Linked DNA regions of Homo sapiens: all the other regions are linked to region 3. Evidence: fine-mapped expression QTL. A gene starts in region 3. Each other region holds a variant in brackets. All regions are shown on one strand. Distances are from middle to middle. Region 1 overlaps CDH4 (cadherin 4). Region 2 has its middle 160 kb from the start of LINC01718. Region 3 holds the start of CDH4-AS2 (CDH4 antisense RNA 2).

What was found. PIP is the estimated chance that this variant, and not a neighbour inherited with it, causes the effect. A credible set is the group of variants that fine-mapping cannot tell apart.
Region 1: its variant is the best candidate, but not a certain one, in a credible set for the expression of CDH4-AS2 in whole blood (TOPMed, PIP 0.77).
Region 2: its variant is the best candidate, but not a certain one, in a credible set for the expression of CDH4-AS2 in whole blood (TOPMed, PIP 0.64).

The regions. Positions count from the first base shown.
Region 1 is chr20:61,829,744-61,835,000 of GRCh38, forward strand. All of the region lies in intron 4 of CDH4 (cadherin 4), which reads left to right. Among named protein-coding and RNA genes, the nearest start is that of CDH4-AS1, 77 kb to the left of the region's middle. The variant G/A (reference allele first, on the strand shown) is at 2,642.
Region 2 is chr20:60,918,818-60,924,074 of GRCh38, forward strand. No RefSeq gene overlaps it. Among named protein-coding and RNA genes, the nearest start is that of LINC01718, 160 kb to the right of the region's middle. RefSeq lists a silencer at 2,303-2,503. The variant C/T (reference allele first, on the strand shown) is at 2,421.
Region 3 is chr20:61,716,466-61,721,722 of GRCh38, forward strand. CDH4-AS2 (CDH4 antisense RNA 2) reads right to left here and starts at 3,283. Exons shown (of 2, transcript NR_147702.1): 1 at 3,165-3,283; 2 at 1,041-2,921. All of the region lies in intron 2 of CDH4 (cadherin 4), which reads left to right.

The sequences.
Region 1 (5,257 bases), 110 kb after region 3:
TGTGGGACCCTTGCTCAGCCTCCAGCTTTGGGGCTGATGGCTCTGCCCCCAGGGAGTCTGTGCAGCCCTCCTCCAGACCCCAGTCCCCTTGGACCAGGGGCAAAGCTCATTTCCCTCATCCCTCCCGCCCCTAGCCTGCTGGGGTGGGAGGGACGAGGCTCCTGCCCGGCCGGCCCTGGGGCTGGGAGGCAGGTGTGGGAAGTGCAGGTGGGTGGTTTGGTGTGTTTGGCAAGCCGACCCAAACTCCCATTACATGCTATGGAAACCCTTGCAGGCCCCAGATCTCTAAATTTTTTTTCTGTCCCCCACAGCCCTACCTTCATGGGGACTGCCCCCCAACCCCACTCCCGCAGTTCTACCCCCATGCCCCACCCCCACACCCGTTCATGTGACCCAGATCCATCTCCTTGGAGCCCCCCGCCCCCAGGTGAAATTGAGCATGCCTCCTGTTCTCACTAGACAGAGGCTCCGAGGGAGCAGGCGAGTCCTCTCTTGTCAGAGGCCACATCCCTGCACCTGCGCAGCACGGCACATCCTGGGGCTCAGCGTCCTGCGTGGAACATACTCAAGTCCATCCACATCCTCTGCCTCAGAGACAGCAGGCCCTAAGCGTGCTTCCCCGGGACCCTCCCTGGGCTTCTACCGCCTGCCACACTCCACCTGTCCCCCTGCATCCAGGAGGGCAGCACACACCTCCCGGGGCCTCTGCCATCCGGCCCAGGGCCACCACCTCCCAAGGCCCCCCAGGACCTGGCCAGCCCAGGTTGCCCCGTTTCTGCTGCTGGTGAGGTGGGGCTGGGCTGACAGGAACCCCAGGAGATCTGCAGCGGCCCCGCCTCCCAGGCCTCCCCCATGCTGAGCTTGCCCACCTCAACAGACGCCCTAGCGTGTGCTCCGGAGAGACACTGAAATGAACTTGGTCCCCCTTCCTCACCCATTAAGTTCTTCCCCCGAGGCCAGAATCCATCGCAGGCAGGCCCTGCAGAGCGGCAGGAGCGGGCGGCGCTGGCTTCACTCCGCGGTCATTTACTTCCGCTTCTGGGCGCCCTTTCTTGCCTCTACACATCTTGCTCTTGGTCGCACGTGCTGAGTCTCGGAGCTGCAGGAGCTTGCCAACTGCCCACCTCCGCTCCTCTCTCCTGATGCCCTGTTTGTTGATGGTGCAGGAACCCGCTGCTGCAGTTAGGAAATTGAAATGTCAGTCGGGAGGGCTCCTGGAGTGGGGTTTGAAGCTGAGCTCTGAAGGCCTCGAGGGCAGGGAAAGGGAAGAACTCTGGGAAAGAGGGCCGGGGTCTCGCCCCTCCTGGAGGCACTGGCTACCCTCAACTCTTGGGGGAGCTTTTGTGAATGGAGTTTGCTTGAAATCGATCTTCTCAGCCTCCTCACCAGCCTCACACTGGCGTTATGTCCCTGGTAGACCAGGCGGCCAAAGCTTCCTTCCTGTGGCTGCCCTGACCACATCTGGCACTGGGAACATGCCCTGCACTTGAGGATAAATAAAAGTGAAATTTCAATTAAAAGGATAAATCATGGTGATGGGTCCTCGTGGTGACCAGCAAAGACCTGGCCCACTTCCAGGCTGAATTTCAACTGAGAAGCAGCCATTTCTTTGTAAAAAGTTGTCCATTTTAGCGAGCAGTGAAGTCTCGAGGGAAGAGCCCCAGGCCTCTGTTAGCAGAGCCTGTGCTCAAATCCCTGCACCTGTAGAGCCTGCACCCCCTCCAGGACGGGTGAGTCCCTTGGCCACAGCCAGGCCTGACACCCCGAATGCGCTACTCCCTGACCTTCCATTAATACCAGCTTTTCGCTAGCTTCTGGTCTTATGCTTCACCTGAACCATGCAGCAGGTCCCTGTCCTCATCAAACTTTGATGCCGAACAAAGCAAATGTCCGGCAGGCCACAGTGCAGCCTCCTCCCCCTCAGGACCCCAGGCCCACCCTGCACACCCTCATGTGGTCCCTCCAGGCTCCTGGGCGGGGTGGGGGGACAGGGATTTCTCCGCAACATACCACCCCTGCAGTGGGATTCCCAGCGTTAAGGGGAGAAGGTGTCACTGGCACGTGGTGTGCACAATTCTGAATCCTCCAGCCTCTCCAGCATTTGCCTTCATTCCCACAGAGGCCGAGAGGCTCATGGCTTCCAGAAGGCTATGAGATGTGGCACAGGCACCCGACAGGTAGGACTGGCTGGAAGCCTCGGGCCTGGGCAGGAGCGGCTGGAGCCTGCCTGCATCCACTTCCTCCTTCCATCTCCTTTGACCAGGAGACCACCTTGCCCACTCATCCTGCAAGTTGGGTGGATGCTGCTGCCAACCCAGGCCTGGTAGATGTACCCATTCCAACCTCCAGCCATGGCAGCTGCTTCAAGGCTGGGGTAAGAGCCAATGAGTGTCTGCCCCAGGACATTTGACGGAGCTGTCTGGAAACAGCCACCTTCCCTACTGAGGCAGGGAGCTGGTGGGTCAGAGCAGGGGCACTGGGGCCAGGACACCTGGGTTCTGGATCCCAGCTCAAGGGCTTGTGAGCTGTGTGATCTTGGGTGAGTGACTCAACCTCCCTGTGCTGCAGTTTCCTCATCTGTAACAGGGAAGGGCTGCATATGAATGGCCTTGTCTGTATTAACGGCACTGCCTTGGGTTGT[G/A]GTGATGAGTAAGTGAGTGGATGGATGTAATGTGACTAGTGTACTAGTTCATTTTCACACTGCTGTAAAGATACTATCCAAGACTGGATAGTTTACAAAGGAAACAGGTTTAATTGACTCACAGTTCCACAGGGCTTGGGAAGCCTCAAGAAACTGACAATCAGGGCAGAAGGCGAAGGGGAAGCAAGGACCTTCTTCACATGGAGGCAGGAGAGAGAAGTGCGAGCAGGGGACACGCCAGACACTTATGAAACCATCAGATCTCGTGAGACTCACTCACTCTCATGAGAACTGCATGGGGGAACTGCCCCCATGATCCATTCATCTCCCACCAGGTCTCCCTCTCAACACCTGGGTATTACAATTCAAGATGAGATTCGGGTGGGGACACAAAGTCTAACCATACCACCTGGGGTACTGCCTGGCACTGCAAACTAGTTAGGGAAGCATCCGTTGTCATTACCATCATCACTGGTTCTACGACCTCTTATTTCTGTGCCCCTGACACTGATGCTATTACTAGTACTGTCAAAATTGTAATGTCAGCCTATTGCTGTTACCCCTGGGGCTGCTAGGCTGATGGGATGTAAGCACAGAAGTGTGAGGCAGCAGAAGGGGAGAGAGTACCTGCGAGTCTGAGGGGTGGGCTGAGCAAGTGCTGAGAGCCCCGTCAGAATGGTCACCCTCATAATGGACTGAGCACGGTACTCAGCCCCCATGAGTGAGTGAACACAGTACTCAGCCCGCATGATCCAGCCATGCCTGAAACCCACACCACTCCAGGATAGGAGCCAGCACATTGCCTTTTTGCTTGAGCCAGTTACATTGGGATTTCTGACGTTTCCAATGGACGAGACCTAAAAGTGCCATCATGCAGTAAAAACCTAAATTAAATCATTTTATTCTTGTGGTCTGGGACCTCCAGGCTGGATATACAGATATTTATTGCCCCTTGTCCCTTGTTTCATTCAATCATCCACTCTGGTTTGCAGAGCACTTTCTGTGTGTCTACTAGTATGCAGAGCTCTCCGGGGGAGACAGCAAACATAGTATTCCGGCATTATTACTGATTAAATTAATGATTAAACCAATATTCAGCCCACATTTAGTGACATAGCATAGTACTCAGGCCTCATTACTGACAACACAAAAAGCCCAGATTTATTCACAAACATCAGTATTCAGCCTTCATTTATTGACAAAGCTCAGTATTCAACCCACATTACTAAGCAAGAGTACTCAGCCTTCATTACTGACTGAGCACAGTACTGAGCCCTCATAACTGACCAAGCACAGTACTCAGCCCTTATAACTGACTGAGCACAGTACTCAGCCCCCATGGTGACTGAGCACAGCACTCGGCCATCAGCATCGAATTACAGACACTGCAGATCCTCAGTTACCATCTTTCATATACTCTTGGCAACAGCTCTGCAGGCTGGATTTAAAAAATCCCATTTCCAGATGAGGAGATAAAACCATTTCCCAAAGTGAAGAGCCAGTGAGGAGGCGCCCCCTCCTCTTCGTCTATGGGAGCACTGCCTGGAGGCACAGGGTGCAGGAGTGGGAGACATCCATTCTGGCAGGTCTCCTTCCTATTGGCCCAGCGTGGGTCACATGTCCTTCCTAGCCAATCACAGTGCCCAGGGAGGTGCACTCTCATTGGTCCACGTGGGGTCCCATGGCTGTCCTGGGGCCAGGTGGGATGGTTCCCCCACACAGTCCATGCAGAGCAAGGGTGGGCCGGGGTGATTTCCAAAGACTGGCAGAAGTGGGTCTCGGCAGGCAAAGCCAGGGCTGACGGCAACCTCCTTCTCGGGCCTGACTCCAGCCTCATGGCTTCCTTGCTGCCCCTAAATGCCCTCCTTTGCTGCCCCTTGCCCCCCCTCACTCAGCTGCCTCTCCTTCTGGGGCCTGTGGCCTAGGATCTGGGGCCTGGGGTCTGGGGTCTGGCCTCCATCTTTTCTGCTGGACACTGGCCCCCTTGGGCTCCCACTACACCTGCACCTGTGCTCCAGCCCAGGCAGGGTCTAAGCTCCCTGCATCTTCCAGCCCGGCCCCCAAGGGACAGGACCCTGCTCCCGTATCCCCAGCAGTGTGGCACATTTACAGGGGCAGACAGGTCCTGTTAGAGGAAAGTAGACGCTGTGTGACAAGACCTTCCAGAGACAGGTGGGGACGCGTGCATTAAATATCAATGAAGGTTTTCTGACGAGACTCCTGACTTCTCATGTTGGAGCCAGAAAATGACAGGGACTAATCAGGGGATGGCATGGGCGACACCTCTGAGGGCGAACACGCTGCGCTACAGGTTGACACTTGGCGCTGCCTATCCCCGCAGCCTCACGGGCTGAAACAACAAAGAACCCGTCTCGGCTTTGGACTTGGCTTTAGCTGTGTGGCTCTCTGATAGGCAGGATTATTCCTAGCCCGAGTCAGAAGCAGAAGCTGCCTCCACTCTGGCTTCTGTGCAGTGACAGCTCTTGTTAGCCATCAAGTTCAAGGAGCTCCTTGGACGCCTCACATCTGCCCCAGACAGTTTTCAGAGAGTCTCTCACTCTTCTGAGCAGCTGTCCAGACACCGCTGGAGGCTGGTGCTGTGTCGTCACAGACCGG
Region 2 (5,257 bases), 800 kb before region 3:
GCATGGTAATGTGAAATAAAAAGTGCAACATAGAAGTTACGGACTAAACTACCACAGATATAATAAAAATTGAATAATCACATTCACTTATTCATTACGTTCACTAAATAAGTTCAGTCTGAGAACCTTCTGGGTGCCAGGCATTTCTAGACACTGAATTAGCAGTGAATAAAATAGATAGTCTTATGCTTTGTGAAACTTACATTCTAGGAAAACACCAAAGGATATTGACCAGAAATTTGCTAAGTGTATAATAGCATAGGAAATGAGATTGTAATGTTTTTGCTTAGACTTGTATTACCATTTCATTTAACAGTAAAACTATCCATAAAAATAAAATAGCCATAGTTTTTTATTAAGACATGTTAAATTAAAAATCCACTAGGAAGGGTCACACCTTATTGTCAGCCGTGGACAACGTAGCCTGAACAAGTTCTTATTCCATTTCTGAGCATGTGAGCAAGAAGTGGTTGAAAGGTAGGACAGAGGAGCTACAGAAGACCCACAGCATAAACAGACTCTGGGGGCACCAGGGAATTGGGAGATGCACTTCATCCAGGTCCCACCTATGACCATGAAGTCTATGACTTCCAGTGCCTGTGCCCTTCAAGACAAGCTGCCTGACTCAGGATACTCAGATGCCCAAAATGATCTGACCACCACCACGTAGGACCTCCCTTTTTTGGACTCTCATGGAATGAGTACTGGTCCTGGTGTTCTACAGAAATACAGATAAAAGCTCAGACATTCTGCCAGGAGCCATGGGAATGAGGATGTTTCCACCAGCAAAGGATCAGCCTACAACTATTAAAAATGCCTTGTTCACAGAACTCTACAAAATAGCTCTTTATCTAAAAAATTGCCATGGCAAATATCACCCCAGTGAATTAGGTGTTTGTGTGTTTTGCGGAAAGTGGTATCTTTTCTAAAAGATTGCTACCTAAATAAGAATGCTCTGGAGAGTCTAATACGGAAATGAAAGGATGGTTCTGTCAACTTTGGTGTCTCTTTTAAGGAAGAGAAATGTATTGCTCTGTGCTGCTCTCCTCTCTCTCTCTCTTGCTCTCTCTCTCTCTCTCTCTCCCCCCATCTCTTTCTCTCTCTCTCAGTCTCTCTCCCTCTCTCAGTCTCTCTCTCCCCTCCTCCTCTCTCCTTTTCCATCTCTCTCTCCCTCTCATTGTTTCCTGTGCTCAAACTGTCAGAAAGTCCTCAAATCTAAGCAATCAGCCTGGAGAGCTTCAGGCTGTGCACGCCACAGAGAGGGTGTGACATATTTACATATTTAAAGGGAATGAGCCTCCAGTTCTCAATGGGGACATGGTGGGGTTTTTAGCTTTCTAAGGCAACATCACCTATTCCTGGAAACAATTAGAGTGCTACACAATAGCCCCCATGCAAACTCCGCAGTGACAGGAACATGAAAGGAAAGAGAATAGGGGCTTTGCAGAAACAGCCTCTTACTCGCCGTTGACAGGGAAGGAAGGTGGAATACCCACTGCAGTGAACACCTCCAATGGTCTCACTGTGGGGAAGCTGCCAGCCTTCTGCCTTCACAAGATGGATGGAGCCCTAGGAAGGCACTATTGTGTGACGGGCTTTGTATATTAAGTATGTGGTGTTGAGAACTCAGGCCAGCTTGACCAGCCATTTCCCATGGAGGGGCTGCACTGAATTCAGTATAGCAGGTTAGAAAGCAATGGGGGTTTTGTTTTTGTTTTTTCAAGGCAGATACATTCTGTGGGCATTGCCCATGAAATGAAATCAAAACAATATTTCTCTTCTGTTCAGTGCCCAAGAATAAGGCCTGTGTCGTGGTCTCCACAAGATGAGCTGGAGGCTCTGGGGGCTGGTGCCCTCCGCAGTCCTCACACACACCGTTAACTGGGTGAGGTCCAGGTGCCAAGCTCTGTGCTAGATCCTTCACAGGCATTAATTATCGTTCTTTCAACAATCCAGCAGCATAGATGGTGATGAGCTTGAAAGTGGAGGAATGAAGTGTTTTTTAACTTTGTGTCTTTATTATCATTTTCCTTTTATATCAAGACCATTCAGCATGTAAATGGCAGAGCTGGGAGGTGAGCCTACCTCCCTTGCTCCAAAGGCTCCCCTTCTACAATGAAGCAGTGTCTCGAGCAGGATTACCCACCTGCACCTAGTCCCTCCCACTGTAGATGCAGGCACACCCAAGGAGCATCCTGCAAGTGTGAGCCCTGCCCATTAAGAGGCTCTCAAAGAGTGTACCATGAGTGAATGAATGAATGATTTTACTTATGTCAGGAACTGAGAGCTCCTGGGGGGCTGTAGGTTGTAACTTCCTGGTCTGCATTTTATCCCCAAGGTGGATGCCACTACTTTAAAAGTGGAGTGAAAAGTCCTTTCATAGCTGTCCAGGTTGTTGGCTTCCTGGGAGCTGTCCGAGG[C/T]GCTGAACGGATGCTGCTGTTAGGAGCGTGATGTTAGTTCTGCGATGGTAAAAGAACAGTTCCTGCTTTTGAGTTTCTGCTCGCCCTGAAAGTTGCCTTCTGGCTGCAGCTCCACAAAGCCAGCCACCTCCCCCCATTTCCATTCTGCCTGATGCTGGCTAATTGCAGAAACTATAATTTGGGCCCAGCTATATGCCTCTGCCCCACCCCAGTGCTGACCCACTCTCCACAAACCATGTTCTGGCCCCAACTCAGTGCCATGCACAAGCTTCTTTGCCAAAGACAATGGGAACCCTACAGGGATTGGTGCAAAGAATCATCTCACAGAATAGTTTGAATGCACCTGGGCATGCCTCAGTGCTGAGGCCGCATAAACCCTCAGCTCAGTGTGGGCTGGACAGCAGTGTCACCAGAAGCCTGCATTTTTCACCTCTGGAGTAAAGGGGAGTTAAAACCTAAATGGAGACTTACAAAGAGGTAGAAATTAATCCAAAACCAAAAGAATAAGAAGGGTCTGAGGTGATGAAGGTGATTCTGGGCAGAGCAAATTACAGCAATGAAGACTCTGAAGTGGGAGATGGGGTAGTTGGGCATGTTTAAGGCAGACAGGAGGTCATGGTGGACCTGGATCCTGGTGATCAGGTAGAAGAGTGGATGGAGATGAGATTGAAAGGCATCCAGGGAACGTAAATGACCATCCAGGGAAGGAGTACACACAGAGAAAGAGCTGTTATTTTAGCTAGAGGGCTGAATTAGTGGTCATGGGAAGGTGTCTAAAGTCATTATTAACATACATAACTATGTTAAAATATTCATTTGTTTGCCTATTTGTTCATTTTCTAGCTTCCCCAGAAGAATGCAGTCTACATGAAGGCAAGGACAATGTCCCTCATGCATCCACCACACCTAGAGTCATACCTGCATGTGGTCCACCTCAATAAATATTTATTGAATGTGGAAGGAGAGCAGCCTACCTGAACATATGTTAGAGACAAAATCATTTTCAGCACACAAGTCAGTCACAGCCTTGAGACACGTGGGCTGATTAATGGGGAAAATGGCAGGGGCAGGGAATCACACTGCAATAAACTTCCCCTAATCCCATCTCTTCCCTTTCAGCTACAGCCCTTTCTTGATTAGAGAAGCAGGAAAAGTTAATATGTGGAGATTTTTCCTCCCCTTCCCTGCCTCCATGAGCACCATTAATAATTTAGTGCAATCTTTCTTCTTATTGGTGCAAGTTATTTGTAAAATGTCATTATCCAAACCATTCACTACATTTGGGGGCATAGCACATGCTGAATGCCTAGTTCCCTTCTGTGGGAACTACCTGCACACAGATCATTACCAAGCACTGCTTGCTCTCTGTAACTGTTAGTGGGTATCACACTTACCCACAGCTTGTTCCAAAGATGGTTCTTGTATTTGCATGTTGCCCCATATGGGGGGAGTTGGTAGAAATCCTCAACATCTTGCAGCCGTGAGTTTTGACCTAATGCAATGTGTAATACAGAATAGAAATCTAATAATAATTTGGTAAATTAAAGAAGGAATGTGTTGATCCATTACGTGCTTTTTTTTTTTTTTTTTTTTTTTTTTTTTTTTTTTTTTTGCCAGGTACTGCACTAGGCTTGGGATTTGGGAGTTGAATATGACCCATTGAAGTTGTCAGTGCAACTCCTACTATAGTAGGAGAGAGTAAGACAAATTCAGGCACAAGTAAATCACTTGGCAAAGCAACTTCCATGTCATAAGAAATGCAGAGCAGTGGCACAAAGGAAAGACCATGAGTATCCTGAGAACCTCGTCTCCTTGTTCTCTGCTCTATTCTCAGAGCTGGGAAATACATGTGGCATGTAAACAGGCATTCAATGAATGCTAGATACAAGAATAAAACTCAAAATTTATTTACCAAAAAAACATATCTGGCATTGAGCAATATCTATCTCAACTATGTCTAACAGAGAACAATTATATAATAGACTTTATTTTTAGAACAGTTTTAGATTTACAGAAAAAATTAGAAGCTAGTACAGAGGGTCCGTGTACACCCCACATCCAATTTTTTGTCCAATTAACATCTTACATTACCATGATACATTTGTCACAATTAATGAACCAATATTAATACATCATTAACTACAATTTTGGAGGATACCCCTCTATTGGAATTCGTTTGATGTCTTCTCATGGTTAGACTGGAGTTATGGGTTTGGGGGAAGAAAGCCACAGAGGTAAAGTGCTTTTCCTATTCTTGATTACAGGAACATCTTTGGCTTTGTAAGAAACTGGTAAAGTAGCTTTACCAATGTGCATTCACAACAGCAGTGAATAAGAGTTCCTATCACATCATATCAAAGGTACATAGTATATGCATGACATTACTGCCTGCCTGCATCAGCCTTGATCACCTGGCTGAGGTAGCGATGGTCAGGTTTGTCTGTTGTAAAGTTACTCTATCTCCCCCTTTCCATTCTATAATCCACCCTATGGATGGATGGCTTCCATCCTGTACTCTATGGAAGGAAGCCACTATGTGTAGTTAATACCTATGGGGTAGGAGTCTTGCTTCTACTCATGGAATCCTACTCATGAAGGCAGGGTATCTGTGTAAATTATTTGAAATTATCCTTCATTGGAAAATTGTCTTTTCTCCTTGTTTATTTATTTGTTCATTCATTTAACCATTAATTTATATCAAAATAGGTTAGTGGAGATTTATTTTATAAGTTGAGTTATAACCCATGCCTTTATTGCTCCTTTAGTTGGCCTCCTTGGCTCAGCTTTGGTCATTAGGAGTTTTCAGTTGGCTCCTGTGCTTTTTGAGATAGCTTTGT
Region 3 (5,257 bases):
GGAAGTGTCCCATCCTCACTGGAGGTCTGAGTGCTGCTTTTCACCTGTCCACAGGCACCCACTAAGGTAATCCCCATGGGCTTGTCTACAGAATAGTGCAGGCTTGTGTCCCGCAAAGAAAGACTCACCAAAGCCCTTCGCTTCATCTAATAGCTGAGGTTGGATCAAGTGTGGTGTTCACACCTGTAATCCCAGCACTTTGGGAGGCCGAGGCAGGAGGATCATCTGAAGTCAGGAGTTTGAGACCAGCCTGGCCAACATGGTGAAACCCCATCTCTACTAAAAATACAAAAATTAGCTAGGTGTTTGGTGGGTGCCTGTAATCCCAGCTACTAAGGAGGCTGAAGCAGGAGAATTGCTCAAACCTGGGAGGCAGAGGTTGCAGGGAGCTGAGATCCCACCACTGTACTCGAGCCTGGGCAACAGAGTGAGCCTCTATCTCAAAAAAATAAATAAATAATAAATAAAATCCAAGGTCCTTGATGTATAACTGACCTTGAGGCTGTGGAATGTGGTTCTTGGGCAGGCATTCACCAGGTAGAGGAAACCCTCTGCACCCTCGTCATGGCCCACTGGCTGCCAGTGCCAGCAGCTTCTTCCCATCCCTGCTCCTCAGCATGCTGGGCCATGAGCAGGGCAGGGCGTCAGGGCAGGGTGGCAGGAGCAGCTCCTCCTGCTTGGCAGAGATGAGTAAAGCACTCAACATGCACCAAGTCCCCCTTGACTTGTCCCCACTGCTGCTGCTGTCACAGGACAAAGGCAGGGGAGCGGGAGCAGCCCAGGACAGCCACAGGGCCATGAGCACCATGCCACCGGGAGCTAGTGACAACACAGGGTGGACAGGACAGAGAGTGGCCCAGTACTGGGCAGGACCAGCCACAGACGCTGCTGCTCTCTGAGCACGGGGACTCTTTGCAGTGGCGCCCATCACTTGGGCAGCTGGAAGCACAGTTTCCCCCCACAGATATTTCGTGGGGTTTTTTTGGTTTTTGGTTTTTGGTTTTTTGTCGTTGTTTTTTTGTTTGTTTGTTTGTTTTTTTGAGATGGAGTCTCGCCCTGTCACCGAAGCTGGAGTGCAGTGGTGCGATCTTGGTTCACTGCAACCTCTGCATCCTGGGTTCAAGTGATTCTCCTGCCTCAGCCCCCTGAGTAGCTGGGATTACAGGCGCACACCACCACACCTGGATAATTTTGAATTTTTCATAGAGGCAGGTTTTCACCATGTTGGTCAGGCTGGTCTCGAACTCCTGACCTTAAGGTGATCTGCCGGCCTCGGCCTCCCAACGTGCTGGGATGACAGGCGTGAGCCACCATGTCTGATACTTGGTTTTAATAAGTGTGCATCACCGCCCTGCCCCCCGCCCCCAGCCCCCAGTGTGCTCAGGTAGCCGTGAACCAGGTGTTGGGCTAGTTTAGTGGAAGGGACTGACATGGAGACAGGAGAGTGGGCTCTGGCACTGTGAGGGAGGCCGAGGAGCCCACCGCCTGAGGTCAAGTCCTGCCTGTGCCACAGAAGGCCCTGATGTCCCCTACAACCTCACACATCACATCCTCAGCACCCTACCAATGCTGGCCTCTGTGGGTAGCGTCCCCTGTGAAGGGATGCGGCCCTTTACTGTAGCCACGCTGACCTGGTCCCAGAGAAGGCAAGGGAGCACCCACACTGTGGGGGTGGGGCTGGTTAGGACCCACCCGGAAGACTGAGCCGCTGGGTCCTGCTGCCTTCCCCAGGGCAGGGTGAAGGGTATATGCTGTCCAAGGGGCCCTGCCTTCCAGACCCCACTCTGCCTCCGGGGGAAGCCCAAACCTGCCCTTCTCGGCATCCCTGCCTCTCCTGTAAGGCGCTGCCAAGCCACACTCGAGTCACTGTTCTTCCTGGATCATGCCAAGGGTGGGAGCCTGGTCCCTCTGGGTGTTGAAGGAGATAATTCAGGTGTGATGAAAAGGAATGCTCCTCTCTGGCTCTGGACACACCCAACACAGAAGGAGGCAGGTGCCTGCTAAGGCTGACGCTGGTTAGAGGCAGTGCCAGGACAGTGCCGTCCCATATCCCAGGCCGTGCTTCCCTTCCTGGAACAGGCCAACCTCGATCACAGCCAAGCACCACCTGCACAGGCTCACAGGGCAGAGCGCTGCAGGGGCTACCCGACTGGGTGTCCTAAGGTGAACAGAAGCCTTTCAATGGGACATTAACTTGAACCGAAGCCAGAGGAGCCTGCATGACACTGTGTGAATTAGCTTACTCAACTGAAACAGGGCATTTGAGTGCAGGAGACACTAGGCTAACAGGCCACCCTACACCCCTGCACACACACACTCTCACCAGCTGCGGAGGAGGCTGCACCCACCATCCCGGGCTCCCAGCGACAGCTGGCTCTATCTTGGACTTCACTGTTCCTGCTGTCAGGCTGGGGATGGAACTCTCTGTCTGCTGCTTGTTGGAGCTCTTCCAGCCCAGGGTGTTGGTTAGTGGGTGAAGCAGGGGTCTTCTCTCCTCGCCCTGCCCCCTGCCCTGCACCAGATGAAAGAGCACACTCAGCATCACGAGTGGCTCTAAGTGTGATGAGAGAAGGACCCTCCCTGGCCACACTCGTGCTAATAGGAAGTGCTGGCGAAAGCAAATGATCAAAATCGTATCCCAGCCTCTTCATGTCACCTGCAGCCAAATGGCTTTGCATCTGAAAGCCACACATAATTGTCAGCATCCATGGGTTCTAATCAGAGATTTTTTTTTTTAAGTCTTGGTAGTTTTTGTTCATTGCTAATACAGAGAAGGATGCAAGCCACTGTTTAGTGTCTGGATGTAAAAGAACATTTCTGTGCCGTGTGGCCTCATTGCAGAATCTTCCAAGGTACGAGTCAGCCACGGAGGCCTGTGAGGTTTTTATTCCTTGCTTTCAAAAACACAAGCTGTTTTTCCCCTGGAAGAGCATGTAATGTGCAAAAACATTAGCAATATTGCAAAATGCTTGCGTGAAATAACTGTGGAAATATTTCACTAACTACATTAACCTTCGCTGGCTTTTCTTCCCCTCCCAACCCAAAGAGAGATAATTTCTCGGGAGTCTTTATCTCGTTCCTCTGTATAATTGCCGCTTTAAATCACAAAAGCCTTTAGAGTTATGGATGCAAAACGCATGGAGCTATGTTTAGGCTGTGCTCACCTGCAAAGCTGTGCGATCCAATGTCCCCCCAGAAGAGAAACCAAAGGAAGAGCGTGGGGAAAGCTGGTGTCTCTCTCGAGGTGTTTCCGAGCAGCCGTGTTAATATCATACGACAAGATGGGGCCCTGTCTCTCGTCACTTCCTTTTGTTCTTTCCTTCTGAAGAGTGGATAATTCCTGGCAGTTTCTGTTTCGCTTGTAATTGTTTTTTAAATTAAGATAAACCTTGCAGCCCTGACTGTTGAGATGAAGGCGCGGCTGGTGGGGAAGCACCTTGCTTTTGTGAACAGCAGAAAAGGTGATAAGACATTGCGGTGTGCTCCCTCCCAGAGTTTAAGCACCGCAGTTACCACTTTGCACCATGCTCATGGGTGAGCGGGCGTCTTCCTTCTTGCAAGTTCCTCCCATGTCTCAGTAACGGAGAAGGAGGCGGTAGTGGAGGGCAGTCGGCGGTGGGGGTTGGGGAGTGCCGCCTGCTGTTTGGCAGCATCGCCCGTGTGTCTGCAGGGCCCTCCTGCCTTCGGGTGGAGGGCATGTTCACGTAAGTTGACTCATGTTTTGGGCGAACGTTGGTGGTGAGAGGAGCTGAAGTCTCCCCATCTCTCAAGGATGCAGCAGCCAGGTTTAGTTCTGTGCTCTATGGGCCGCACCTCCTGGCCCCCCATCCTGCTCCGGATTCCACAGCTTGGTCTTGACTCACCAGGAAGCAGGGCAGCAACTTGAGAGTGATGCAGGGGACACGTGCAGGGGTGCAGAGTGTAGGGGTGCAGGGGTGCGAAGTGTAAGTGTGTAGGGGTGCAGGGATGCAAGATGTAGGGGTGCAGAGTGGAGGGGTGAAGGGGTGGAGAATGCAGGGGTGTAGGGGTGCAGGGATGCAGAGTGGAGGGGTACAGAGTGGAGGGGTATGGGGTGCAGAGTGTAGGGGTGCAGGGGTGCAGAGTACAGGGGTACAGAGTAGGGGTGTACAGTGCAGGGGTGCAGCATGCAGGGGTGCAGAGTGCCATTCCTAAGCCATCGTCTTGTGTCTGTGTTCTGTGTATTTGCTTGCATGCTTTTCTCTCCAGCGTGATTTTCTGATCCGTGGATACACACAGGCTCCTCCCTATTCAGCTAAACCTCCCAGCTGCCTCTAAAAGCTGGGGATTGTAGGGGTCGGGGAGGCGTGTTCTCTCATTGTACCATCACATTGAATTGTCTCAAACACCCTGCCAGGTAGAGGTGGTTATTTCCCTTTGACATGAGACAGTAACCATTAGCTTGGTGGCTTCCCTTGGTCCAGTGAGTCATTAAACCTGACTTGTTGGCTACAGGCGAGTGCCTGGTGGTTTCTGGGCATTGTGCTTGGTCAGATCCGACGTTCCGAGGGTTCAGCTCTCCAAGGCCACACCATGTGTCCCCCCGGCTCCCTGCCCTGAGCTCCTCCCGAGGTAGCTTGCCACTCTTGCACCCTCCAGTAGCTCTAGCACAGAGTAGGAGCTAAGCGCACAGTGGGACTCAGTGACCTGAAGCGGGAGGTGAATTGAATGCCTCCAGGATGAGTATGTCTCTTCTCAGCAGCCAGAAGGGTCCAGTCCAGAGGCTGCCCTTCACTGAGAGCATGCTTTGCTCTCTAAGGAAAGCCCAGAGCTTTCTTTCACCATCTTCTAATGTGCATTCAGCAGAAGCTGTAACTCACTAGAAATGGATGGAATTAAGGCCAGGCATGGTTGGCCAGGCTGCTGGACAGTCCTCTCCAGAAGAGGAGCCCACCCCGGCCTGGAGGATGGACACCAGGGGCTCTCCCTCTGCCTCCAGCCCTCCTGCTTCTCAGTGTCTAAATCATCAGAAAAAAAATCATTTCTGGTTCATTGACCTTTCTGCAAATTATAATTTACACCCAAGGGTAAAATGTCATATAACTTTTATGCATTTAGCTGGGCTTTTTCACTGCTATCTTAAAAAACAATTCTTTATCAAGACTTCATGTCAGAATTGCACAGGGATAATTACCTCAGGAGAAACGCTTCATTTGCATAATGCACCATGCACATTTCCCCTTGGGGCAGTGTTGTTGAGGGCTGGTGATATGCTTCTCTGGAAGGGGGCATTGGTGAG